Regions from separate parts of the Homo sapiens genome. Here region 2 is linked to region 1. The links come from fine-mapping of genetic effects on gene expression. A gene starts in region 1. The other region holds a variant in brackets. All regions are shown on one strand. Distances are from middle to middle.

Evidence for each region.
Region 2: its variant is fine-mapped to the expression of DEPDC7 in whole blood (INTERVAL, PIP above 0.99).

Annotation. Positions count from the first base shown.
Region 1 is chr11:33,012,232-33,024,683 of GRCh38, reverse strand. It overlaps DEPDC7 (DEP domain containing 7), which reads right to left and starts at 8,806. Exons shown (of 9, transcript NM_001077242.2): 1 at 8,656-8,806. The coding sequence starts at 8,728. It overlaps LOC105376615 (a long non-coding RNA gene), which reads left to right and starts at 8,894. Exons shown (of 4, transcript XR_931167.2): 1 at 8,894-9,407. RefSeq lists silencers at 8,532-8,591, 8,912-8,961.
Region 2 is chr11:33,071,379-33,088,282 of GRCh38, reverse strand. LINC00294 (long intergenic non-protein coding RNA 294) reads right to left here and starts at 12,133. Exons shown (of 1, transcript NR_015451.1): 1 at 8,829-12,133. TCP11L1 (t-complex 11 like 1) reads right to left here. Exons shown (of 10, transcript NM_018393.4): 10 at 14,733-15,809. The coding sequence ends at 15,607. It overlaps CSTF3 (cleavage stimulation factor subunit 3), which reads left to right. Exons shown (of 21, transcript NM_001326.3): 18 at 1,142-1,295; 19 at 2,294-2,388; 20 at 2,510-2,570; 21 at 2,994-3,699. The coding sequence ends at 3,196. It also overlaps the pseudogene PIGCP1. The variant T/C (reference allele first, on the strand shown) is at 10,222.

The DNA of each region.
Region 1 (12,452 bases):
GTTTAGATACACAAGTACTTATCATTGTGTTACAATTGCTTACAGCATTCAGTATAGCTCTGCAGGTTTGTGGCCTAAGAGCAACAGGCTACACCACATAGCCTAGGTGTGTAGCAGGCTATACCATCAAGGTTTGTGGAACTATACTCTATGATGTTTGCACAACAATGAAATCACCTGACAATACACATTTCTCAGAACATATCCCCGTCATTACACTACGCATGATTGTATACACACACACACACATACACATTGATACACACAATCATTGCAGGAATAAACTAATATTTTTAAAGCCTCCTATTATGCAGGCTTATGAGTTAAATACTTTGTATGCGCGGTAAAGTAACAATTTGGTTCCTGCCCTATAGGAGCTTATGACCTATTGCAAAGACAGAGTACGCACAGAAGAAAGCAAGATTTTTGCCAAACACAAAAGGAGAAAAACAAACTTTCAAAAATATCCTATCACATTTTTCCTCATTGTAATTAGCAGATATTTGGAAATCAATAGGAAAGAAATCAGGTCTTGGGTTTTTGTAAACCGATGGAATGGATTCCAGTGAATCACTCACTTGGTGGCTGGCTGGCTCCCTCCCTTTTTTCCTTTCATAAAGAGTAGGCCCTTTAATGTGTTACACTTTTCAGTGATCCTCTGAAAATTCAGCAGTCTTAATTTAAGCCCCCATTTATGTTAAGTATATTACTTCCTTTATTTTTAGATATTTTGGCAGAGAAGGTGAAGTTATTACTTCCTTTAAGATCGTCTAGAAAGGAAAACCATATGCATGAGTACAATGGTAAGGAAAAAAGGGAATTATAATTAAAGAAATTGCTACTTGAAATTATCTTCCTACTTTTTTAGGCAAAATAGAATGTTTAAGATGAAGAAAGCATAAGATAAGCTCCTGAAGGACATTATTAAAACTCCTTTACAGCCTGCCGAAGGTGGTGAAACCCTCTCTACTAAAAATACAAAAATTGGCCGGGCGTGGTAGCAGGCACCTGCAATCCCAGTTACTCAGGAGGCTGAGGCAGAGAATTGCTTGAACCTGGGAGGTGGAGGTTGCAGTAAGCCAAGATAGTGCCACTGCACTCCAGCCTGGACGACAAAGCAAGACTCCGTCTAATAAATAAATAAATAAACAAAAACTCCTCTTAGTGCACTAGAGCCATAAATTATAAGTGGGTCATTTGAAATTCATCTCTTACGTTGCAATAAATATAAGGAGTACACTGAACCACTACACTGATTTCACTTGTAGCATAATTCTGTAGCTACTAGCAATTTAAACATCTTTATAGTGAAAATGAATAGCATATACACAAATACACAGTCCTTTATTGTTTATTTGTATATTTCTAATACCAAAAGTAGATGGGTAATTTACCACCTACCCATTATTATAACGTTGGTTTAAAATGATCAGCAAGATTTTTTTTTTTTTTTTGAGACAGAGTCCCTCTCTGTCACCCAGGCTGGAGTGCAGTGGCGTGATCTCGGCTCACTGCAAGCTCCGCCTCCTGGGTTCATGCCATTCTCCCACCTTTAGCCTCCCAAGTAGCTGGGACTACAGGTGCCCGCCACCACGCCCGGCTAATTTTTTGTATTTTTTTTTAGTAGAGACAGGGTTTCATCGTGTTAGCCAGGATGGTCTCGATCTCCTGACCTCGTGATCCACCCACCTAGGCCTCCCAAAATAAGCAAGATTGTTTTTAATTGTCAAAATTGTATTTTAAATTTGAAGATATTTCATAAGCCAGTACTAAACAAAGATGGAAGTAATTGTTGCCAGTCTTCCAAATATAATGTGAGCTATTTCAGGAACTGAATTATGGAGAATTGACTAAATAAATCAAGCTGGAATTAGATCTACTCTTGGTACAGTATTTAGTCTCTGTTGAACAGAGCAAGAATGAGGCATTTGATGGAATCTCAGAGTAAGTCCAGGTCATTTCTGGTATCCAGAACTCAGGAGTAGTTGTACTATTTCCAGCCACAATGCCTAAACATTGTTAGCGACTAATATTCTTAACTTCCTAAAATACCAGAGATTATAAATAAGATTTAAAATAAACAATTTCTGCTTAATTTTTCAAATCTTTATTATTAATAGCTAACATTTGAGTATTTACACTATGACAGGCTCTGTCTTCTCGCATTTAATTCTGATAAGCTTCTCTGCAAAATGATTATTAATAATCCTATTTTGAGGAAATTGAGGCTCTGTGAGTTAAATGTGCCCACAGTTACACAGCTGATAAATATATACTAGTGTTTCCTAGTACTTAAACATAAATATATGAAAAGTCAGCCATCAGATAAGTTGTTTAAGCATTAACCTTTCACTGGAAACTTGGATTAAGTGAAACAGCTTTAAGAGAGCCAAGAGATAAAACAAACTCTAAGAACCCTTAACCAAGCTATTTAAAAACAGTAGTCACTACTCATAAAATAAGGCAGGATATCATAAATTCTGTAATAAATACTACCACAGTACACAGGGTAAGACAGGAAAAGGAAGACATGCAAGATTCAAACTTCAATCAGACTGCCTTTTAAGAACCAATGAGACAGACTTTTGGACTAGTGATAATATAAAGATGAAACACATAAGTCATAACACTTGAGCTATAAGTAGGTTAGCACACAAATCCTAAATGACAAGGCTGAGTCACTTATTAATTACAGATCAGTAAGACAGCTGAAGAGGGCGGTGAGAGGGGATATTTGGCCTCAATGAGTAGAAAAGGCTAATCTTCACAGAAGAATTAAGAGGTAAAGAATAAATTTCCCCATATTAACTTGTGGGAAATCAGGAGGTTCTGCAGGTTGTATAACACTGCATAAAAGATTAAAGAACTAGTTAGAGCAGGAGAGTAGACACCTGTGAACCACAGGTTTCCAGAGTCCTCCAGGCATGATACAATGCAGCCCTCACAGGTCCCCTCTGTTCTCACTGACCATTAATTCCCAACCATTGCATCCTGGGATATTTCCCTTCAAGCACCACCACCCACAAACTAGCTCATGTTCATACAGATGCTTTCATACACAATGTACCCTGGACTTGACAAGTAAATGTGCCAAAACCCATACCAGGATAACCTGCTTTTTAAAATGCTGACTTCACCAGCTGAACATATATGGTTTGAAACTTATTTATCGTCATTTAAAAGCTGAAATGAATATTGGTATAGCAGATCATGGCCCAGTAAGATGACTTACTGTGATTTCTAAACAGGATTTAAGAGACCAAAAATAGACAATGAATGTTTTTTAAGTCTTGCAATCAGAATTAAGGGTTCAGCTTGTCCTCAAACCTCACTTTCATATGAGCTAAACAACCTTTTAAAATCCATCACTATCTACATCTTGATGCTTCCTTACATTTGGTCAAGCATTTTCTTTTTTTTCTTTTTTTTTTTTTGAGATGGTGTCTCACTCTGTCGCCAGGCTGGAGTGCAGTGGTGCGATCTTGGCTCACTGCAACCTCCAACTCCCTGCTTCAAGTGATTTTCCTGCCTCAGCCTCCCAAGTAGCTAGGATTACAGGCACGCGCCACCACGTGCAGCTAATTTTTTTTTGTATTTTTAGTAGAGACAGGGTTTCACCATGTTGGCCAGGATGGTCTGGAACTCCTGACCTCGTGATCCACCCACCTCGGCCTCCCAAAGTGCTGGGATTACAGGTGTGAGCCACCACACCCAGCCTGGTCAAGCATTTTCTAAAAGCATCATAACAAATGGAATCAAAGAGTTTAGAGATCAGCTGTAAAAACTCTGGATAAGAGACAATCTCTGTAAGTAGGTTTCTTTATCTACTGATAAAATAGTTGAACACAATATTTTAGGTTAGTTTCAGGTCTAAACTGCCAGGGCAGGCACAGTGGCTCATGCCTCTGACCCCAGGACTTTGGGAGGCCATGGCGGGAAGATTGCTTGAGGCCAGGAGTTCGAGGTTACAGTGGGCTAGGATCGCACCACTGCACTCCAGCCTGGGTGACAGAGTGAGATCCTGTCTTTAAATAAACTGATTATAGGAATGTAAAGACTGAAATTATATCTCCTCCATTTAGATAAGGACATTGAACACCAAATATGGCAGATCTATAGGCAAGAAAGGAAGCATATGGACAAATTTGACCCTACCAGATACAAAACCTTTTGGAAGGTTGCCTAAGGAGGCTCAGGAATAATTTGATTATCTAGCCTTCAACACATAGTCTCAAGCACTATATAAATCTAGGCTAGTTAACCTTCATTTTTCAAGCAGTCTCATCCTTATTTGCTTGAAAACAATAGCTATTTTTCAAAAGCTGCCCTTCACATGTATTTGAACTCTACCATAAAAAACGTTTACCAAAAGTAAAAGTTAAACTTCTAAGATAATATTGAACACTTATATATACGTGTAGTACCAGTAATAATCATCCTCACTTCTAAGAATTCACACTAAATAACTGAGTCATAATAATTCCCTAAAAATGTAAAGAAATTACATTTACCCAAAAATTAGGGATAATCAGCATCAACCATAATCCACCCTGTCAGCAACCCTAGTCCTACTGTGAAAACCTATGAAAACCTATTTAAAGGGAAAACAATTGTATAATCACTTCAAATAGTAAGATTATATTAAATCTTTAGAAGTAGATCAATATACACATTATAAAATTGGATCCCAATGTAAGGTAAACATACACACAGAATTAATAAAACACACTACCTCTTAATGAACATATAACAAATTTGTTTCCATTCTCGGTCTTTAGACTGGACTTAAAAAAAAAAAAAAAAAAGGAACTGAATCCAGACAGTTGATGTTTCTCCATAAAACTTTTAAGAGATGGTGAGCTAGTGCCCGATTTCTTTCAGATTTCCTAGCGGTTTACAGAGGTTTAAATTATTTAATTGCCTTACAGATTGCCTCAATATAATACAATTGGTTAGTCAATATTTGTTAGTTGTTAATTATTGCTAACTACTAAAAAACTTACTTTTTTTTCTTTTTTGAGACAGAGTCTCACTTTGTCATCCAGGTTGGAATGCAGTGGTGTGATCTCGGCTCACTGCAACCTCTGCCTCCTGGGTTCAAGCGATTCTCCTGCCTCAACCTCCTGAGTAGCTGGGATTACAGGTGTGCGCCACTACACCCAGACAATTTTTGGATTTTTAGTAGAAATGGGGTTTTGTCGCATTGGCCAGGCTGGTCTCAAACTCCTGGCCTCAAATGATCCACCTGCCTCAACCTCCCAAAGTGCTGGCATTACAGGTGTGAGCCACTACACCCCGTTCATAAAAAAAATTTTTAAAGGAAGGTTAACCCAGTGGTTCTCAGTGGGTGATTATACCCCCAACAGGACATGTCTGGAGACATTTTTGATTGTCACAATGAGTGTGGGTATTGCTGGCATCCAGTGGGTAGAGGGATGCTACTAAACATCTTACAATGCACAGACAGCACCCACAACAAAGAAAACGTCAGTAGTGCCAAGGTTAAGAAACCTTGGGTTGACTGAATACTGTTCAGACATGGAAACTTGAGTTAACGCAGCAGACACAGTGCTAGGTGCTGTGACTACAAAGAGTTAGACCAGTGTGGACTCTGCAGTCCCAGGGACCTGAGTTCCGTTGTTGGGTCCATCATTTACTAATAACACGATCTTGGGCAAACTGCCTAACTTTTCTGTTGCAAAACAGAGCTAACTCCACTTCTCTCACTCATTGCGAGGATCATGAGACAATATGTTAATGTGTCTCGCAAAATGTCCAGAAATTAACAGATGTATCACTAAAAACAAAAGGAGCAAACTGTCACAGTCTAGAAGAGTAGATTCATTACATGACAACTGAATGTAATATAATATCTTGGATGGGATCCTGGAAGAGAACATTAGGCAAACACCAAGGGAATCTAAGTGTGGACTTCAGTTAATAATTATATGTATCAATATTGGTTCATTAATTATGACAAATGGACCATACTATTTAGTGAATCTAAAATTTTATTTTAAAAGTAGAAAGAAAAGGGAGGTATCTTTCTTCCTCTTCCTTCCTCTGAACTCAGAGGACACAGTCCCCAACCTTAGGAGTTTACCTTTTATTTACTCCTACTACCTGGATGATAATGTCAAGTTCTGAATAGTATTCAATCACATAAAGGCCAACAGGAGATGAGAAGACAAGATGTGACACATACCAGAGGATTTAACTTTTCATCAGAAAATAACACATCTATAAATCCTAGACCATTTAGGATTTAAGAGAATTTTAAGAAAGATTTTTTCAAAAGAGGTTTTAAAATATTACTCACACAAAGAATTGTCAAGACAACAAAGAAAAAGGACATTTGTTGGATAGTAACCAAAACCTCATGAAAATATTAATAGATAAATGTAAAGAGAATTGTGTTTATGGTGTTAAAACTTGACAGTTGTGACTGAGTGGAAAAATTTTCTATACTATGATCCCAAGATTACAACACTTTTACTGGATATTGGTTCTGGTAGTCCAAAGTTTATTTTCCTGCTAGTTGGCATTAGAGGCGTCATGCTGAAGACTGCGATTGCCTCTGAAAAGAAGGCTGCAGGTAGGTAAAAGAAGTCTACCAACAAGAAAAATTTACAATATCTACGAGAATTATCAGCAAAAGCAGACATTGGTCTCTGCTTTAATTCACATACATTAATGAGACAGCATATGGGAAGTACTTTGAGCTCCCTGGAAAAGTGATACCAGGCAAACTCAAAGAATTAGGTTACAGTATAAAGGGATAACAGGATAACAGACTACTTTCTTGTTTGTCGTATTAAAAGACAAGTGTTTTTGACATACTGGCTGAAGACTGGCATATAGATCTCATTTCTTGTACATAAATCAGGTCCCTGGTCATTACAGCCCCTTTAAGGTAAGTGAGAGTTACTAATCGGTGGAGAAACAAAAGTACAAAGCTGCCTGCCAGAGCACACAGAAAGAGAATGGCAAAGAACCAATAACCGTGTGCTCCCACTACCTTGCTCACTGGAACTATGACAAGGCAACTAAAGGGTGAAAGAAAGGCTAACAAATGTTACCAGGTCGGGATTCCAGCGGTAGCAAGCAAAACGAGTGAGAACAACAGCGGGCCCCTCTCCGTCCACTGCAGCTAGTGTGCCGAGGACAGTGTTCCTTTGATTCCTGATAACCAGCACTTCAACTCTTCCCTTAGAGAGTTATCTACTTAATTTCTGAATACATACTTCCTTACACCATCTAAGAACCTGTTCACAAATGCCCAAAGCTCCAGAATTGGTATTTCAGCTATTAGAGAAAACAGGGTACCATGTTTTTATTTTAAGCAGGTGACATTTGGGAATTTCCTTCACTGAGTAAGTGGGCCCAAAAGATTTCTCAAGACTGTTTTCAATGTCATTTGGTTTTAAATTCCCAAATGTCTTAGCATTTGTCTTCTCTTCACAACATAAATCAAGGAGACATTCTCAATGTGGCCACTATGTGCTTACCTGAATCCTTTACATGGAAGCAGACTAAGGTCAATATTATGATTTTTCTTAGAAAAGGACAAGTGAAAAATGGTTCTCTACCATAATCTGTCGTTAGCATTTTGAAGATTAAAATGAGCATTAGTGAGTAAGTCAAACACAAGAGTGGGGCCACTGAGAAGCACCCATTTGACCCAGAGGAAGGAATCACAGTTTCACTGGTTGGTGTTTTTACAAATGAAAGGCTTTTGTCAGAAAGGGAACTAATTCCTACGACATCCCAGACTGGAGCTCCAGAAAGGGGAAAAAGTTGTAACTTAACCAAAAGAAAAAAGCCAAGGGTTATCTGAGTATCTTAACAGTTATCTGAGTCACCCCTATTAACTGGGTTGTAGATCTGCTATAACCAGCATTTTAGAAGTGATATCCGATTCTCTTCATGTGTTTGAACATTTAAAGAAACCAGAATCCTAAATCAACTGCCCCCAAAAGACACGATTAGGCCCGTGGCAGAATTTGCCAACTTCCCTCCTAATTTCATGTAACTGTTTTTTTAGCCAAAAACTTCTATTCACTAAAATACTGCTTATACATAAAGTGTTAATAAATACCTTTTATGCCAAATTCCTGCCAGTAGAACTCACATAAACCTCTCATCCCTCCCAGGAAGAGTCTGGGGAGACAAGCTGACTCTTGACTCCTAGCAGTCTGGAGAACAAAGTGGGCAAGGGAGGAGCTCGGCCCCTGGCCATACTGTGTCGTCAAGGTTTGTGGTTGAGACAGGGGGCAAAGAACTACACAAATTCCAGATACCACACTTGTCACCGGTAGCACCGCGGAGCATATCCCGGAGCTCCCCGGCGCGTGCCTGGCACGTTAGCGGGCGCACAGACCAACGCGCGGTCAAGTTGAGAGTCTGGGTAGAAAGAAAAAAGCTGGGCTGTGCGGGCGGGCTCTGCCGCTTGCAGCCCACCAGCCAGAGAGGAACTCGATCCGCCCGCTCGGCGGGGGCGTTGGCCAAGTGGTCGCAGCTGTGCTGTGCTCGCCCAGCCGGCCGTTGACAGGCGCAGGCGGCCGAACGCCCCACGCCGCCCGCCCCGCGCCGGGACCCAGCCCGCGCACCCCAGCCCGCCCCGCGCCATCCCAGGCGGCAGTCCTCGGCACCTACCCGGAGGCCTGTGCGCGGGGCTGTGGAGAGCCGAGAGGTTCAGCGCAGCAGCCTTCTCCTGCACGGTGGCCATGGCCCTTGCTCCCCGGACGCCAACTCCTCCAGCAGCTTCACAGCTCCCTAGCTCCCTGAGCGCCCGTCTGTTAACTGTGCGGGGCGTGGCTCCCTGCAGGCCCCGCCCCCGCTGCCGGTCACGTGTCTCTCTGGCAACCACTGAACGTAGCCCGCGGCGCCAGCGATCCAAGTTTCCTCGGGCGCGATGCCACGCGAGCGGTGGTCGGGGACAAAGCGGTTCCCTGGGCCGGCACTACGCGGCCCGCGGCTCACACCAGCGGGATTCGAACCGCGGCCTGCCGTAGATTAACTCGGGACCAGGCCGGGCGCGGTGGCTCACGCCTGTAATCCCAGCACTTTGGGAGGCCAGGGCAGGTAGAGCACCTGAGGTCAGGAGTTCGAGAGCAGCCTGGCCTACATGGCGAAACCCCTTCTCTACTAAAAATACAAAAATTAGCTGGGCTTGGTGACAGGCGCCTGTAATCCCAGCTACTCGGGAGGCCGAGGCACAAGAATCGCTTGAACTCAGGAGGCGGAGGTTGCAGTGAGCCGAGATCCACCACTGCACTCCAGCCTGGGCGACACAGCGAGACTCCGTCTCAAAAAAAAAAAAAAAAAAAAAAGAAATAGAAAAAGTCGGGAACCTGGCAAGCTGCCTAACTGCTCTGTGCGTCGGTGTCCTCACCTGTGATGCGGGGGTAGGTTTAGTACCTGCTTCACTGAGATGTTTGTTTGTTTTTTAACGAGGTTTATAGGAACCAATTCAGGTTCAGCATTTAGTAACTGCGTCCGGAACGTAAGTGCTTAAAATTATGTCATAGTAGTAGTAGTAATAGTGATAATAACAATAATAATCGAGTTTTTCAGACATCCCTACCTGTGCAGAACAAACAAATCCTATGTGGCCCAGGAGAGCAATGTCTAGAGGTCACAGGAGGGCAGCAACGAAAGACCCTGGGACTGGCTGCCAGGAAATCTGTGCTGCCTCCAAAGGAACTGTGGGTCGGGTGGGTAGGGACAGTTTGCTGCCGGTTGGAGTGAAGGTGAGGAGAGAAAAGGAGGAAGGGCTATTAATGGGACACATCTTAGTTACTTGGAAGTTGAAGCCAGGCCAGGGATCCAATGCTGGATACCTCTGAAAGGATGAGTGGTCTTAGAGACCAATAATCCAATTGCCAGACACTTGCCCTTTTTTTTTTCTTTTTTTTCAAGTTTGGGAATTTTGCAATGATTTTCAAAACGATTATGACGTCTTCTTAGAAGGAGGATGCTTGTGTGATTTAGGTGTAAATTAGAATGGTGTTTAAGTGGGAGTTCATTATTTAGCTTATTGGAAAGAGCTTCTACATGGGATTGTTTCAGAGAATACATACTAAGAAGCTGCCCCTGGGGACTTGGGTTTGTGGGTGGGAGGTGGGGGCCAGTTGCTGCTGCTTAGTGTTAGAAAAAGCTGGCCAGGCACGGTGGCTCACGCCTGTAGTCCCAGCACTTTGGGGGGCCCGAGGCAGGGGGATCTTCGAGGTCAGGAGTTCGAGAACAGCCTGGCCAAGATGGCGAAACCCCTACTAAAAATACAAAAACTGTCCGAGTGTGGTGGCAGGCACCTGTAATCCCAGCTACTTGGGAAGCTGAGGCAGGAGAATCGCTTGAATCCAGGAGGCGGAAGTTGCAATGAGCGAAGATTGTGCCACTGCACTCCAGCCTGGATGACAGAGTGAGACTCCATCTCAAAAAAGAAAAAAAAAGGTTGCCAACCAGTTGGCAACCTTTTTTTAATGTGACCTCTTCCCCTGATGGTAGTAAAACCCTGCTTTACTTCTGTTTAAGGATTTTCTTTGTAATCTCTCAATTGGCTGCTACACACAGAAAGAGGATGCATTCAGGGCTGGTTTCAGGCACCCAGTATACCAATGAACTTTATCCCGTGCTGTATAACTGAATGAACACACAAGTCCTCCCTCACTGCATGGGAGGGGGGAAAAGCTCATCTGTCTCAGAAGACAAATCTTGAAAAACACTAATATTTGAAAAAGCTTGGTGACCTCAGTGACCATTTTGATACTTTATATAACATTTCAGAGAGTTTTTCACCAGGTTATGCAATAATTGTTTACCTCTTCTGGAATGCTGAAATGTTCATCTCTACTCAGATACTTTCTACAACCATGGGATAGGAAATGCCTATCCCTTTTCCCACTTTCTTCCCTGGACAGATTTTTCCAGGTTACCCGGGTGTGTTTTTTTTCTCTGAGCACCTGTGGCACTTATCAAATGCATTACTATTCATCTCCTGCTTGTATTGATACTCTCTGATTATTACAGCACACACATATCTTTTTTTATTATAATTTAAGTTCTAGGGTACATGTGCACAACATGCTGGTTTGTTACATATGTATACATGTGCCATGTTGGTGTGCTGCACTCATTAACTCGTCATTTACATTAGGTATATCTCCTAATGCTATCCCTCCCTGCTCCACCGACCCCACGACAGGCCCCAGTGTGTGATGTTCCCCTTCCTGTGTCCAAGTGTTCTCATTGTTCAATTCCCACCTATGAGTGAGAACCTGTGGTGTTTGGTTTTTTGTCCTTGCGATAGTTTGCTGAGAATGATGGTTTCCAGCTTCATCCATGTCCCTACAAAGGACATGAACTCATCCTTTTTTTATGGCTGCATAGTATTCCATGGTGTATATGTGCCACATTTTCTTAATCCATTCTATCATTGATGGATATTTGGGTTGGTTCCAAATCTTTGCTATTGTGAATAGTGCTGCAGTGAACATACGTGTGCATGTGTCTTTATAGCAGCATGATTTATAATCCTTTGGGTATATACTCAGTAATGGAATGGCTGGGTCAAATGGTATTTCTAGTTCTAGATCCTTGAGGAATTGCCACACTGTCTTCCACAATGGTTGAACTAGTTTACAGTCCCACCAACAGTGTAAAAGTGTTCCTGTTTCTCCACATCCTCTCCAGCATCTGTTGTTTCCTGACTTTTTAATGATCGCCATTCTAACGGGAGCACACACATATCTTAATTGCCTAAGAAAATTGGAAAATTGCCGGGTGTGGTGGCTCATGCTTGTAATCCCAGCACTTTGGGAGGCCAAGGCTAGCAGATCACCTGAGGTCAGGAGTTCGAGACCAGCCTGACCAACATGGAGAAACCTCGTCTCTACTAAAAATACAAAATTAGCCAGGCGTGGTGGTGCATGCCTTCAATCCGAGCTACTTGGGAGGCTGAGGCAAGAGAATCACTTGAAACCGGGTAGTGGAGGTTGCAGTGAGCTGAGATAGCGCCATTGCACTCCAGTCTGGGCCAACAGGAGTGAAATTCCATCTCAAAAAAAAAAAAAATTGGAAAATTGTCCAGGGCATGGAGCATATTTTAACCTCTTGGACTTCTTTCAGCATTTGTGCATTGCTGGGCAAATAGTAGATGCTCTGATTGTCCCCATCAAAATACAGAGCTTTAAAAAATATCAGTTTCCTACTTTTTAAAGTTTAAAGTTTAGTAACTTCTAATAGAAAAAGTTCTTTTAAAAATCCCACCTGGGTGGTGGCTCATGCCTATAATCCCGGCACTTTGCGAAGTTGAAGCAGGTGGATTGCTTGAATCCAGGAGTTTGAGACCAGCCTGGGTAACATGGCGAAACCCCATCTCTACAAAAAAATACAAAAAATTAGCAGGGCATGGTGGTGTGCGCCTGTAGTTCCAACTACTTTGGAGGCTG
Region 2 (16,904 bases), 61 kb before region 1:
AGTATTCAGGAGTAGAACTACTTCCTGAATATGATGTTTTCCATCTTGTATTTCTATTTCTACTCTTTTGTTTTTTGGGGAAGGATTAATGTGCTTCTGTGTTTAACGGTGGGTGGTATGGTATGTATGTATCTGTGAGAAAGATTTTTAAAAAGCGATACCCAATGTGTCTACCATTTAGATTTGCTTATATAATTAATACCAGATGTCACCAACTCCATTTCAACAAATTTTGAGAAAGTGGAATGCTTTTATATCCCTTGATGGCGGCAAAAAGGGGTTCTTTTGTTTCTAGACAGACAGAGTAACACTGGGTTGTCTGGAGCAGAGGAGCTCCTCTGAGATAGGGCCTCTGTTCATAGGTGACTGTATTGCTTCCTTTGGCATATCTTGTCTCAGCCCTGGCAGGGCAATGCTAGTGTACTGAAAAGAAGACTGTGGATGGATTTGAGGTCAGAGAGGCCTGCCCTCCCAATCCTCCTCTCTCTACTTCTTATTAGCTGTGTGACCTGGGAAATATCAAAACCTTTGTGAGCTTCAGTCCCTTCTATATAATGGAGATGTTACTATTTCCCTCATTAAAAACAGAATGGCTAAAATTGCCTGATGAATAGTGTCTGCTCAGTAAATATTCCTTGTCCCCTGTAATAAATAGTACATTGGAAATAATTTTTCATTGCATTAGCAAAATCTTAACCGGTGTGATGCCTTCACAAAACAGGAAGTCACTTAATCCAGCTTCTTCATTTAATGAAACTGGTGTTCAATTCTAATGGAAGGGAGGTGTCAGAAGATCTAAAATCTTGAATTTTCCTCCAAATTATCCTGGCCTCTACTTGGTTCCCAGTCTGACTACCCAAAAAAGCTTGTATCTGTCCTACAAATGTCCTGCCTGGCAACACTAAGTTTAATGACTTGTAACTTGTGTGGGGTAAAGTTATGATACACTGAGTCTTAGAACCAAATAGCTTTCCTTGTTGAGTAACAATCTTTACCATCATTAGAGTCCTTGCTTATCCGTCTCCATTTTCTTTCTGTGGTTTTGACCCAGATATTCACACTGTATCCTCAAGGTTATTGCATGATTATTCTCTAGTAGTCCCTTTTTCAGGTTTAGGATTCTTCTGTTCTGCATTTTCAGGATGTCTCCCGTGCTAAGCTAGCAGCTATAATTCCGGACCCAGTTGTAGCTCCTTCTATAGTGCCTGTTCTGAAAGATGAAGTGGATAGAAAACCAGAATACCCTAAACCAGACACTCAGCAGATGATTCCATTTCAGCCACGACATTTAGCACGTAAGCCATGACTTTAGATCCAGTACTGAGACGTTGGTTTGTTTGTTGATTTAAATCCAAAGCGTGGGGGTAAAGTGACATGGCCTCTCAATTGTGGGTTAATTATTAGACTTAGGATCACTATGACAAGTGATTTAGCTTTAATCTTTGAACTAGATTAACTAAGAATGTCCTAAAAACAAAACTTCAATGATCCAGATTCCAGGAACCCATTTTGGCAGTAATACTTGGTTTTCAGAAATGCTGCTATGGCCAGGTGCAGTGGTTTACACTTATAATCCTGGCACTTTGGGAGGCCAAGGCAGGTGGATCACCTGAGGTCAGGAGTTTGAGACCAGCCTGACTAACATGGTGAAACTTTGTCTTTATTAAAAATACAAAAATTTTCTGGGCCTGGTGGCATATACATGTAATCCCAGCTACTTGGGAGGCTGAGGCAGGAGAATCACTTGAACCCGGGAGGCGGAGGTTGCAGTGAGCCAAGATGGTGCCATTGCACTCCAGCCTGGGCAACAAGAGCGACACTCTGTATCAAAAAAAAAAAAGGAATGCTGCTATGTGCAGATTACCTGAACAGCTGGTGGAAACTTTCTTCACTGATAGATTTGGTTTCTTTACTTAGGAATGGGTTAGTAGCCTCTCTAGATTCTTTTTGAACAAGGCCCTTCTGATTAAATACACTGTTGAATAATTGACTTGAAACAGGATTGCTAAACAAATGACTTGTGTAACTCAGAAACACTCTTTGACAAAAACTGACTTTAGTTCAGTCCCTGGTTGTCTTACACAAAGTCACTTGTCTACTTCTCTGCCTCCCAGTGGCCACGGCATTGAGACTGCTGTCTCACCCACTTTGGTTTGGTAAAGCCCTAGAAGTATTTTCAGTGTCCAGAACAAAGCAGCAGACATGGAAGATCTTTATGTGCAAGTCACTTGATTTTAGCTCTGTGTAGAAATTCTTCCATTCCACTTGATTCATACTTTTCTTTTTCTCACAGCTCCAGGTTTACACCCTGTACCTGGTGGAGTGTTCCCAGTCCCTCCTGCAGCTGTTGTTTTAATGAAACTTCTCCCTCCTCCTATCTGTTTCCAGGTTTGTTCACTTATTTTCATGGTAGATACTGGCTCTGTGGGTCATAGTAATTGTGTATAAAGTTACTACTACTTTAACTTGTCAGATTACTGGGATTAAAATTTATTCATGTCAAAAATAGGGTCCTTTTGTACAAGTGGATGAACTGATGGAAATTTTCCGAAGATGCAAGATACCAAATAGTAAGTAACAGAAGCTCCATTTCAGAGTGTCATTCCACGTTGTTGTCTCATAGGCAGTAGAGATTATTATTCTCTGCCACTGAAGTTTTCGAAACCAGCCAGCCAATTTGAAGTGCAGTGAAACCCAGGAGTTACCCAAACCCTCTTTGGCAGAGAAAGGCTTATTCACATTGAATTCCACTAAGTAAAATGTCATAAAACTTTATCTTTTCTATTCATGTGAACATGCACTATCAGGCTTGGCTTATGAAAATTATTAGTTTTAACAGCAGCTTTTGTCTTTTTCTTTAATTATTTAGTATCAGTAGTACTATCCCATGTTTTGCTAAAATAGTAGGCTATGAAATAAAGTATCCACAGTTGAACATACATACCCTTTCATAGTGGAATATGTTTTTACGTTTTGTTGTTTTGTTTTAATAGCTGTTGAGGAAGCTGTGAGGATCATTACTGGTGGGGCCCCAGAGCTAGCTGTAGAAGGCAACGGCCCCGTGGAAAGTAATGCAGTACTCACCAAGGCCGTCAAAAGGCCCAACGAGGATTCAGATGAAGATGAAGAAAAGGGAGCCGTTGTCCCCCCTGTTCATGACATTTACAGAGCACGGCAGCAGAAGCGGATTCGGTAGGGTTTTAAACGCCTCTGCAGAAAACTCCTGTCCAGGATTCCTTTTGCCTCAAGTGGTATGTTTAAAAGAGACAACGCTTTGTTACAAGGTTCTTGGAAACAAAGTTGTATTGTCATTGGTGCCTCTATCACATGGTTCTTGAGAAAAAACAAACCAACCTGTGTGAATTTTAGAATACGGAACAGACCTATGCTCTAAGCAAAATTAGGTTTTCAAAAATGTGAGAACAGTACAAAGTGGCAGAACCACATTTTGTTCCCTCTTCAAGGGTGTCTTGTATGTGCCGCTTGAAGATTTGTGAGTTTTTCAACAGTTTTATTTTAAAAACTGGATGGCTTATGATTGTAAAGCATTTTATCACATTTTCTGAAAACAATTGTTCTTGGTTTGCTTATGTAGAGTCCTGCCTTATTGTTTGTTTTTATTTATGGCAGAATGTATGAAATCCGTTTTGTAGTTTCAAATTTTAAAAGTCCTTTAAAAAATAAAAGGATTCAGAAACATCATGCTTCCTCTGCTTCTTTCAGATTTTATTTACAATAACTACTTATGTTATTTATCCAATACCATTTAAAAATAAATGTCAGGACAAGGAAAAGTCATCTTGTATTTACTGAATGTATTAATCACATACTCTTTCCTGGTCTGTCTTTTTTGGTGCTAACTAAAAACATTTTTAAGAGGCAAATTAAACATTTTAGAAATCCTCAAATATGAATGCATTTGCTCCCCAGTAAATCTGAGGCAGATTAAGATCCTGTTAATACTTTTGTCTCTCTTGAAAGCAACCTAAGTGTGGAAATTCCTTTAACCACCTGCTGTCTTGTTCTCACATAGAGTATCTCTTATCTAAAATACTTGGGACCAGAAGTGTTCAGGATTTTGGATTTGTTCAGATTTCAGAATATTTGCATCATACTTACCAGTTCACCATCCCTAATACAAGAGTACAAATTCCACAAAACTCCACTAAGCATTTTCTTTGTGCATCATGTTGGCACCGAAAAGGTTTTGGATTTTGGAACATGTTGGATTTCAGATTTTCAGATTAGGGATACTCAACTTGTATATTTTCACAGGGGCCCAGTGCTCAAGAACATTTTTTTTTCCATGAGCTAAACATAGATAACATTAAGGAAAATGACATTTATTTAACTAAATTCTAATTACAGTGAGCAAAAACTTGTCATGCAAATTAAGTCCAAAGAACTAGACTTTGCTCTTTGGTAACAACATTACCTCCTCTTCTCATTACTAGTTAAAAACTAAAAAGCAGGAGGGAAACAAAAAGGAGGGGAGGACAAGTATTATGATTATAAAGAAATGATCTTACATATTAGAAACAATTTAGTTTAGAATTTGAATTCAGATGTGATTAAATAATCTGACATTTAAAATCAGCTTCAAATGTCCCATAAAAGTCTTACTTGTAAAAAAAGGTTATGCTGAATCATTTACTCATATAAATTTATATGTAGCAAGGTTATATAAATTGGTCAAAAGTGTGTTTAGTTTCCAGTATTTTCCCATTAAAGCTAAAAATCGCCTCTCAAAACAAAGTCAGCTGCCTCTAATTCAGACTTTCTTATCCTTTCAAGCATCACTTTCAAGTTGTGAGTTTTTTAAAAATATCAGTTACCATCAAAACTTAAGACACAAGTAGGCCAGGTGTGGTGGCTCACTCCTGTAAATCCCAACACTTTGGAAGGCCGAGGCGGGCAGATTATTTGAGGCCAGGGGTTCAAGACCAGCCTGGCCAACAAAGTGAAACCCCGTCTCTACTAAAAATACCAAAAAAATTAGCTGGGCGTGGTAGCCCAAGCCTATAATCCCAGCTACTTGGGAGGCGAAGGCAGAAGAATTGCTTGAACCTGTGAGGCAGAGGTTTCAGTGAGCCGAGGTAGCGCCACTGCACTCCAGCCTGGGTGACAGAGCAAGACGCTCTCCAAAAAAAAGACAAGTAATACCATATGGCATAGACTTTAAAATACAGAGATGTAGGCTGGGCGCGGTGGCTCTTGCCTGTAATTCCAGCCCTTTGGGAGGCTGAAGATTACTTGAGGCCAGGAGTTCGAGGCCAGCTGGCCAACATAGTGAAACCCTATCTCTACTAAAAATACCAAAAAAAAAAAAAAAAGTTAGCTGGGCATGGTAGCACAAGCCTGTAGTCCCAGCTACTCTGCAGGCTGTGGTGGGAGGATCACCTGAGCCCAGGAGGCCAAGGCTGTAGTGGGCCATGATTGCACCACTGTACTCCAGCCTGGGCGAAAGAGTGAGACCCTGCTTCAAAAAATATATAGAGGTGTAGACTTGTTCCTGAAGTGCCATTTTTGGTGGTTAGTATCGGGGGTGAGCAGCGACTATCTGGGGCTGGTGGTGTGGGGGTAAGAAGAATTTACCAAGACAATAGTAGGTAGAGAAAGGTAGATTAGAGAAGGTATGAAAATGCACTGCAAGGTTGGAACAGGCAGAGAAGATGCTTGTCTGCAAAGAGACAAAGGCTTGCTGGGGATTTTATAAGATAGTGCCATGTGCTGAAGAGGGTTTTATGTACTACTGAGAATGCCAGTGTTGCAGTGAGCTAACTTGCAGGTGTCTGGTGATAAGTTGGGTGCAGTACGGCTACATGTCCTGGACCATGAAGAAAGGCAGACTCATAATTTATCTGCTTTTCCCTGCTCCCACCAGCCTGACTCCCTTTCCCTAATTAGGACTCCACAGTTAGTGTTTTGAAGACAAACAGGCCGGGCGAGGTGGCGCACGCCTATAATCACAGCACTTTGGGAGGCCAAGGTAGGCGGATCACCTGAGGTCAGGAGTTCAAGACCAGCCTGACCAACATGGTGAAACCCTGTCTCTACTAAAAATACAAAATTAGCCAGGTATGGTGGCACATGCCTGCAATCCCAGCTACTTGGGAGGCTGAGGCAGGAGAATTGCTTGAACCTGGGAAGGAGATGTTGCAGTGAGCCGAGATCGCACCATTGCACTCCAGCCTGGGCATCAAGAGCGAAACTCCGTCTCAAAAAAAAAAAAAGAAGACAAAACAGTTTCAAATACCTGTAAGTGATCTGCCAAAGTGTTCCCACAGACAATAAAACAAAGCCATGCGAACATGTGTGAAAAACCATTTTTTAGCGTGTGTGCGCGTGCGTGCGTGCACACACGCACACACACACTTGGTGAAAAGTGTCTTTAATCACTTTATTAGTCCATTCCCACAATGCTATAAAGAAATACCTGTGACTGGGTAATTTTTAAAGAAAAGAAGCTTAACTGGCTCATGGTTCCGTAGGCTGTATAGATAGATTAGTGGCATTTGCTTCTGGAGAAGCTTCAGGAAATGTATAATCACGGCAGAAGGTGAAGGGGAAGAGGGACGTTTTACACGGCCAGGGCAGGATGAAGAAAGGGGGGAGGTGCCACACACTTTTAAACAACCAGATTCCATGAGAACTCACTGTCACAAGAACAGCACCGAGAGGATGGTGCTAACCCTTTCATGGGAACTTCACCCCCCTGGACCAACACCTCCCACCAAGCCCTACCTCCAACACTGGGGATTACAATTTGACATGAGATTTGGTGGGGACACAGATTCAAACCATATCAATTATTATTAAGGCTACTATGTATATTATAATTGTTCCTATTGCATTTATTTATAGGATTTTTTTCTCCTAGAAATGATCAGCTCTTTGAGCATAAAAAGGATTCTCATTAGAAGAAAACATTTTCGAATGTTCTAACTGCTAGAGATATGTATGAATTTTTAGTTTTTAAGGTGATTCTGCCTGATATTTGATAATTCCTTTTGTTAAACAGTTCAACAAGCAGCATGATGTTAGACATCTGAACTTACCTTTGGAAATCTAATGTGCAGACTCATGGGATAATCAGTCCTACAATTCCAAGGACTCATATCAGTATTGCTGGACCCAAAGAAATTGCCAAAAGATATCCATCTTTTTCCTGTTTATAAAAGCAATGACAGCATCTCCTCAAGATTCTAGAACTAGACAAAAGTTTCAAGGACTATATGTATGTCCTTCCTAAACAAAAATTAGTCAAACTCTGGCCTTTACCACTAAACTTCAAACAAGAGGTTGCACCTATGTGGCCACATCTAGTACAGTAAAAGGTTAATAGAAACTACTAGTAAACTTTCTGAACAACCAAACTGTACCAAAGAAAAAGAAGGAAAAACACATCATTTCTGTTAGTATATTGACCCTGGTCAATAATTATGAATTTATTTGATATTATAACCCTGTATTGGCCTATAGTTAATAAATGTTGAGTTCAATTTTATTAAACCATAGTCATCATGGTCATAAATTATTATTATTATTTTTTTTAACATGGTAGTTCTTTGACTGTGGCAATGAGCAAGTGAACTTACGTTTTACTTAATAAAAATTTCAGCCAGGCACGGTGGCTCACATATATAATCCCAGCACTTTGGGAGGCCAAGGCGAGCAAATCACCTGAGGTCAGGAGTTCAAGACCAGCCTGGGCAGCATGGTGAAATCCTATCTCTACTAAAAATACAAAAATCAGCCGGGCATGGTGGCGCACACCTGTAATCCCAGCCACTCGGGGAGGCTGAGGCAGGAGAATTGCTTGAGCTTGGGAGCTGAGATTGTGCCACTGCACTCCAGCCTGGACAACAGAGTGAGACTCCATCTCAAAAACAAACAATCAAAACAAAAGAAAACAAAAATTTTCATAAGTCTTTTTGTTTGTTTTGAGACATGATCACAGCATAATCCTCCCACCTCAGCCTCCCAAGTAGCTGGGACCACAGGCATGCACCACCATCCACCATACCCAGCTAATTTTTTAAATTTTATGTAGAAACAGGATCTACCTGTGTTGTCCAGCCTGGTCTTGACCTCCTGGGCTCAAGCAGTCCTCCCACGTCAGCCTCCCAAACTGCTGGGATTAGCCACCATGTGAAGCCCTTCTTTTTTTTATTTTTTATTTTCTTGAGATAGGGTCTCACTTTGTCACCCAGGCTGGAATGCAGTGGCATGATCTTGGCTGAATGCAACCTCTGCCTCCCGGGCTCGAGCAATCCTCCCACTTCAGCCTGCTGAGATGGGAGCACAGGCCTATGCCACCACGCCTGGCTAATTTTTGTACTTTTAGTAGAGACAAGGTTTTGCCATGTTGCCCAGGCCGGTCTAGAGTTCCTGGCCTCAAATGATCTGCCTGCCTCGGCCTCCCAAAGTTCTGAGATTACAGGCGTGAGCCACCTTGCCCAGCCCCTCTTGTTTTAAGGTTACTTTTAAGTCAAGAAAAGTGACACTCCATCGAACCAGGCCTATAGCTTAGTTCTGGTTCTTAAGTTCGGTAGGCAATAAATGTAAGTCAGGTGTGACAGAAACCCACATGAGGGACAGTTTTAAGTAGAATTATATGTTTAGACTTTTAACACATATTTTGTAGAACTCTGGCTATTTCTGAAAGTACCAGTGAACACTTGATCGTTTAATAAACAGAGCTTACCTGGGCTTAAAGATTATCCCCTTCCCCACCCATTGAAGTTGCTTTGAATACTATGACTAAAAAGGCTTTCCATTAAAATAATTATATAATGCAAAATCCAATATAAATACACACTTGCAAATATCATTGTAGTTATTTATTTAGATTGTTTTTAAATGAGATAGTGCCTTTAAATATGACTTCATAGCCCATTATCCATTACCATTCATTCATCCACTCATTTGTTCATTCATGAATTCATTTAGTTCAAATAATATAGAGGTGGAGATGGGGAGAAATCACTGGGGTGGGGGTGGATGTCAGGAAGTAAGCAAATGTAAGACTGCAGCTCTAGTATAGAAGAGATGATGAACATAAACAAGTCTTAGGAGAGGACAGGAAGAAAACCTTCCCTGTAGGCCCGTAAAATGTGCTTGAATGAAGGGAGGTTGGGCGCTACCAGTGGAACGTAACACCACAGCAAATGTGCGCCCACAGGTAGAGGGTTACATGTTCGCCTTTGTAGTTAAAAAAGAAAGGTATAGTCCTTTTCCATGTACAAAGCATTCTATCATTCATTACCAAATGTAATCCTCACAGCAACAGTGTGAATTAGGAGTGTTCCCATTTAACAATGAAAATGCCGAGGCCTTGGGGAGAATGGCTGGTCCAATGTTGTACAACCGGTAAGGCGGCGATAGAGGAGAAAAGACTAAAACCCAGATCTTTCTCTAAATTAGGAGCTTTGTGCACAATCCTGCTACCACCAAATGTTAGAATCGGAAGGGAGCTTAAAGACCAAGTCTAGTCCTTTCATTTTAAAGGAGTTGGGAATGGGCCCTGATTTGCCCCAGCTGGTACATAACAGAGTGGAGATCCAAGCCTTGGTTTCCTGACAGCTCCCAGTCTTTCCACTCTACCACCTGGCCTCAAAATGAAAAGAAACACAAATGTTCTACCTATAAATCAGAGCTCGCCAAAAGGTCACTAGAAATCAAACAGCAAACACCTATTCTCTTTGAAATTCACCAGCAAAGCTGGTGGCAGCAACATTTCCTCTATTCCCAGGAATCTTAAGGCTTTGGAGAAATGAGAATAAGCACCTCCACAAAAACAGAACCGCTGAATAATCCATTTAGAATCTTGGCCAGTATGTGCATACTATAGGCCTATTAAGTCAAACTTATTAATAGCTTTTCTTCACAGAGAAAAAAGTTCATATATACCTACTGACTGCATTTGATCAGTAAGATATCATGTCAGTGTCCTTCTTACCTGAAGTACATTTATGGCTGGGTCATATCGTGACATAAATAATCACATTTTGTAGCTTGCTTTAGACGGAATGCGATTTTTTTTTTTTTTGAGACGGAGTCTCGCTCTGTCACCCAGGCTAGAGTGCAATGGCGCAATCTCGGCTCATTGCAACCACCACCTCCAGGGTTCAAGTGATTCTCCTGCCTCAGCCTCCCGAGTAGCTGGGATTACAGGCACGTGCCACCACACCCGGCTAATTTTTGTATTTTTAATAGAGA[T/C]GGGTTTTGCCATGTTGGTAAGGCTGGTTTCGAATTCCTGACCTCAGGTGATCTGCCCGCCTCAGCCTCCCAAAGTGCTAGGATTACAGGCGTGAGCCACCGCGCCCGGCTGGAATGAGATTTTTAAAAACACCAGGACTGAGAATCCATCCACCCAACCAAGAGCCAACAAAGTAGTAGTTACTTTAAACATTCACTTATCCATGAGACTACTGAAGAAATCCAAGAGGCTTGGTGATACTGACCTCACTCTCAGTTCTATCCACAAGTAGTAAAGTACTGCCAAATACACTTAGCAATTTCAGGAAAAGACACTTGTCTCCACAACCTGTTACTGAATGCAGCATATAGAATCCATTCGATTCTGGAGGACAACACACTCCAAAGGATGTTTCGTTTTGGAAGGAGAGCTGTAGGGGAAGGTACAGGGGGATGCTTAGCAATGCTTCCTGAGTGACTAAATGAACGAAGTGGATCTCCCTGGCCCTTAGTAATAATCCTATGAGATTCCAGGAAGAAAATTAGCTTATCTTCATAGAGCAACAACAAAATGATTCAATATGAATATTGTGGTTCTGAAGTTTGCTTCCTTCATTCTTGACTTTTGCCAGTTGCAGAACTCCACCAGTGGACACCGAGGTAGTGGGCGGCCAAGAGTCTGTGAAGCCAGTTATTCATGCATCAAGATTTCAAACGGTCCAAATGGAACTCTGGCAATGTAAGAACTCAGGAGGGGAAAAATATCTTGCAAGAATCTACTCTTACAAAAGAAGAGTTTTTGAGATTTAGGAAGAATGACTGCAGGAAGTGGTGATCAGCGCTGTGCAGTTGGGGTTAAGCTCCTCTCCTTCAGCCTTGGAGCGGCAGGAAAAGGCCCCAAACACTCTGAGGCTGAGGCTTCTCTGCCCAGGAACCCAGGATCATACAACCGCCAGGCACAGTGGCCACAGAGCAGCCTCCACCTTAAGGGAACAATTCCAGACACGACCTCATTGAATACACCATGGAAGATGTTATCTTCTTTAAAAGTACCCTCATGGCAGGGCGCAGTGGCTCACGCCTACAATCCCAGCACTTTGGGAGGCCAAGGCGGGTGGATCACGAGGTCAGGAGATCGAGACCATCCTGGCTAACACGGTGAAACCCCGTCTCTACTAAAAATACAAAAAAATTAGCCAGGCATGGTGGCAGGCGCCTGTAGTCCCAGCTACTTGGGAGGCTGAGGCAGGAGAATGGCGTGAACCTGGGAGGCAGAGGTTGCAGTGAGCCGAGATCGCGCCACTGCACTCCAGCCTGGGCGACAGAGCAAGACTCCATCTCAAAAAAAAAAAAAACCCTTACAAGGAAAAAGGCAGGCAACTGCCATCTCCCAGTCACGCATCCCCAGGAACTTGGCTGTATTATATCCTGCCTCAGAGACAAACTCATCTATTGTAGGCCTGGCCTGGATTGCTGCCTTTGAAAACAAGGAAAGGTCAGCAGAATATCAACCAAGGCATGGAATTTCCAGGGAGGTCTCATTTCAAAATGTCATCAACAAGAACCACATGGACCTCTGTGAGAGGGATGATTAAACTAGCCTGAGTTTGAATGAAAGGATTATGTGTACCCAACCTGTAACAAACACCAAGGAGGTAAAGTGGCAGAGGGTCTTGTATGAGCAACAGCCCTTTCCTGATAACTTTGTGGACCGGCGGTTCCTGGAAGAGCTCTGGAAAAACATCCATGCTCGGAAATACCAATATTGGGCTATGGTATTTGAGTCCAGTGTGGTGATCCCGCAGCTGTGCAGTGTTTTTGTTTTTCTGGTTATCTGGTGGTATATGGATGAGGGTCTTCTGGCCCCCCAATGGCTTTTTGGGACTGGCCTGGCTTCTTCACTGATTGGGTATGTTTTGTTTGATCTCACTGATGGAGGTGAAGGGCAGAAGAGTGGGTGGACCCGGTGGGCTGACCTGAAGAGTGCCCTAGTCTTCATTACTTTCACTTATGGCTTTTCACCAGTGCTAAGACCCTGACAGAGTCTGTCAGCACTGACACCATCTATGCCATGTCAGTCTTCATGCTGGTAGGCCACCTCATCTTTTTTAACTATGGTGCCAATGATGCCTTTGTATCCACTGTATCCAGCACACTATCCTTGAACATGGCCATCTTTGCTTCTGGATGCTTGGCTTCCACCTTCCCCAGTCCCTGCATGTCTTCATCATGGGAACACTTGCCATCCAGATTTTTGTCCTGTGGCTCATGCTACAGAAGAAACTAAAGGCACGGACTCCCAAGGGCTATGTGGTGGTCACACTGCTTTTTGCCTTTTCGGTCTTGGAAGGCCTACTGCCTATTAGTGCTGTGGGAGCCGTACTCTTTGCCCTTCTGTTGATTTCTATCTCATGTCTCTGTCCATTTTACCTCATTCGCCTGCAGCTTTTTAAAGAAAATATTCAGAGGCCTTGGGATGAAGCTGAAATCAAGGAAGACTTGTCTAGGTTCCTCAGCTAAATTAGGGACATTCTGATAGACTAGCCTCCTAACTAGTATAAAACTTAAAGACAGGCCGGGTGTGGTGGCTCACGACTGTAATCACAGCACTCTGGGAGGCCCGAGGCGGATGGATCACGAGGTCAAGAGTTCGAGACCAGCCTGGCCAACATGGTGAAACCCCGTCTCTACTAAGAATCCAAAAATTAGCCGGGCATGGTGGCGCGTGCCTGTAATCCCAGCTATTCAGGAGGCTGAGGCAGGAGAATCGCTTGAAACCGGGAGATGGAGGTTGCAGTAAGCTGAGATCGCGCCACCACACTCCAGCCTGGGTGACAGAGCAAGACTCCGTCTTGAAAAAATAAAAAATGAACCAAAGGCTTGGGTGGTGAGGGTGCTTATCCTTTCTGTAATTCTGTGGATGAAAAAGCTTTCTGGGACCCTCTTGAATTATTCGCTGTAACAAATGAAGTGATGTGGTTTCTATTAAAAAAATAATAATGCATTCAAACAAACAAAAATAAATAAATATGAATAAAAGTACCCTCACAAAATGCAGCCAGTCTGCCAGATTACAGTGACCCAGATTCTCCAGTCTCCTGCCTGGGACCCAAAAAGATACATCTGGCTCTACTTTTTTTTGTTAAGGAGAGACAGGGTCTGGCTCTGTCACCCAGGCTGGAGTACAGTGGCATGATCATAGTTCACTGCAGCCTCAAACTCCTGGGCACAAGTGATCCTTTTGCCTCAGCCTCAGCTTGTAGCTGGGAGTACAACTGTGTGCCACCACAACAGGCTAATTTTTTTTGTATTTTTTGTAGAGACATGATCTCACTATGTTGCCTAGGCTGGACTTGAAATCCTGGGTTCAGATGATGCTCCTGCCTTGGCATTCCAAAGTACTGGGATTATAGTGTAAGCCACCATGCCCAGCCCTGTTTTTTGTTTTGTTTTTTTAATTTATCACATCATTATAGATTAGAACCAACATCAGTGCTGATCTGCATACATGTAATTTCTACCTGAGTTTCTATAGCCAGATCCAAGTCCTTGTATAAACCCTGGGACCATCAGCAATCTCAAAAATCCTGAAAGCAGAATGTATTCTGACTCTACCAGGTCTGAAATCCTTCTCATGGAGTATCTGATTTCCTCCCCATCAGTCCTATTGGAATACCTACCCAACTGCTTCTTCAAGTCTTCCTTCAAAACACAAAATCACTGCACTTCCTTACAAAGAAGGATCAGAGAAAACAGCTGCTTGCAGTAAAATGTAGCCCTTCCCCCTGGTTGTGCAGGAGTGGCTGCTGGCCTTCCTGGAGTCTTTCTGAAATGGCTTCCAAGTTTCTTTTCTTTTTTCTTTTTTTGAGACAGAGTCTCACTCTGTTGCCCAGGCTGGAATGTAGTGGTGCTATCTCAGCTCACTGCAGCCTCTGCCTCCCGGGTTCAAGCGATTCTCCTGCCTCAGCCTCCCAAGTAGCTGGGATTACAGGCGCGTGCCACCACACCCAGCTAATTTTTGTATTTTTAGTAGAGATGGGGTTTCACCATGTTGCCCAGGCTGGTCTCAAACTCCTGACCTCAGGTGATCTGCCTGCCTCGGCCTCCCAAAGTGCTGGGATTATAGGCGTGAGCCACCACGCCCGGCTAACTTGTAAGTTTCTCTTAGCTTCCTGTACAGAAGGCTTCAGGTGCCGATATTACTGCATTACTCATACAGTAATATAGTCTTACCCCTTGCTGTTGTGGCAGTTGGTCATTCCAACTTCATGGCTCTGCTTCTAATATAACATCCCTGTCTAAAATGCAGACATACATGTGTACACTTTAAAAAAAAAAAAAAAAAAAAAAAAAGAACAGATCGTCTATGAGACCCAAATCACTCACGCTCAGAGGACATGTCAGGAATTCTGGTCACTGAAGTTCCTTGAAAAATAATGCTCAAACACCAGGGATTTCCTATGACTTCCTCATCTAGGAGATTCGTGAACTCAAGCTATTTTATCTGAAAACAGTTAAATCTAATTCCAGAATTTAATTCAATCATCACATCTGTGTATTGTCTCAGGGTCAATTTTTCAGTAAGAATTCCAGACATTTCTCTTCGTTCACATTACAGTAAACTATTTTTCAATACATTTCCTCCTTGACTTTCAAGGCTTGAAAGTCAAAGACTTTCCTTTCACTAGATCTCATAAGTCATAACTGCTCTCAACCAGATGCAGGAGTAATTTTGTATAAAAGAACAAGCTTTTTAAAGTCCAATAACTGTATCTTTGGGGGAAGGTTAAAAGAATGTTTAAATACAAAAAAGAAAGTAAAAAAAAAAAGAGAGAGAGACAAATAACTCTCCTCTAGAAAAAAGGGCTTGGGAGCCCTGGCTAGGCCAGGCAGGGAGGAAGCAATAAATAGGGGGAGAAAATGGCAATAAGACGTTATATAGCCCTTCTAACAAAAATACCAGAAGGGAGGGGTGAGGGACAAGGCTGTCTGAGGGAGGGCAGGAGGTGAGGCCATGGCTTGGTCTCTTTTGCGCTTGGATGGCCGTCAGCTCAGCATGAGGCATCTGAAAGAACTACCCAGATTGCAGAAGAGAGAGGTCCCAGCCTCCTTGGAAGGACATGATGGGGGAGGAGTGGAGACAACAGCTGAGTGTTACCTGTAAAACTCGAGAACAAAATGCTTCTTTGATTTGTAAACTTGCACTCATAAATACAATCTCTCAAAATAGAATTCAGTGGATTTCTCAACAAGTCTTTTCAACAGTGATACACAATATTCTTCCCTTTGGAATCGGTGCTGTTAAATAGACATGTACTATATAGCCATTTTCCAATGCAACATTAGAGTACAGAACAGGTATTCTGTGGCTAGTGAGTAATACTGCTGCTGTAGGGTGCATACACGTTAGGATCGGACGAGGATCTTACTCAGGATTGCATCGTAGTAGGGACAGAAGACCATCTTGTTATAGTTGACCAGGCGAGCAAATTTAATAGCAACTTCCTCCAGCTCTCTCTGAACTGGACTGAGTCCCCCAGGGACTGTGGGCAATGGCTTCTGATGACCCGAGGCAAGGTAGGTTTCTAAGAAGGTCAGGATTCGAGATTCTGTGACAAAAAAGAAAGTGGTCAGTTGTTTCTTGTCCTTCACCTTACAAACCTTACTGTGCTTCAGTTCTTAGCTTAACCATCACCTCTTAGGGGAAGTTGTCCCCGATCAATACTCCCAGACCAGATACCCACAGCACCTTGCACTTCTGCATATTCATCCCATTTATAATGTTTTCTCTCCCCTCTAGATGGTTAGTTTCATGAAGGTAGGAGCCATGCTCATCTTGTTCATCATGTCTCCTCAGCACTCAGCACAGTGACTGGCATGAGACCCAGCTCCCAGGAGAAGCTCAAACACACTTGGAATGCAAGAATGAATGCATGAGTGGCCAGGCGCGGTGGCTCACGCCTGTAATCCCAGCACTTTGGGAGGCTAAGGTGGGCGGGTCACCTGAGGTCAAGAGTTCGACCAGCCTGGCCATTGTGGTGAAGCCCCGTCTCTACTAAAAATATAAAAAGTAGCCAGGTGTGGTGGCGCACACCTGTTGTCCCAGCTACTCGGGAGCCTGAGGCACAAGAATCACTTGAACCCAGGAGGTGGAGGTTACAGTGAGCTGAGATCATGCCATTGCACTCCAGCCTGGGCGACAGAGCCAGACTCTGTCCCCAAACAAAACAAAACAAAAAAAATGAATGAATGCATGAGTGAGTAAAGGAAGACTGGAGACATGCTCTGCTCTCCGAGGAGCAACACATCCTGAGACCATTGTTAGCCATCGCTGACGATCACATAAAAAGGTGGAAGATTAAAGCAGGAATTACAGGTTCAAAAAAGACTTTTTTCCTACTAAGCCTCCATGAAAGCAGCTCGTGCTTCCTTCTCTGATGCCTGCATGGAAGTCATGGGCATTTGTAAACTTGTCCTACTTGGAGGAATAATTTAGGTTGATGCTTTTCTAGTCCATTCCCCTTCACAATGCTTTTGTACTCTTGTGTATCCTCATGAAAAAAGATTTGATCAAGCCACACTTCTTGCAGATTTTATCACAAAAACAACAGAGACATTTATATGGAATAGACTTTTTCAAACTACATGCCTTGCCTCCTGCCTGGGGAATCCTCTCAGGTGCAAATAACTTATACCCTCCTGAG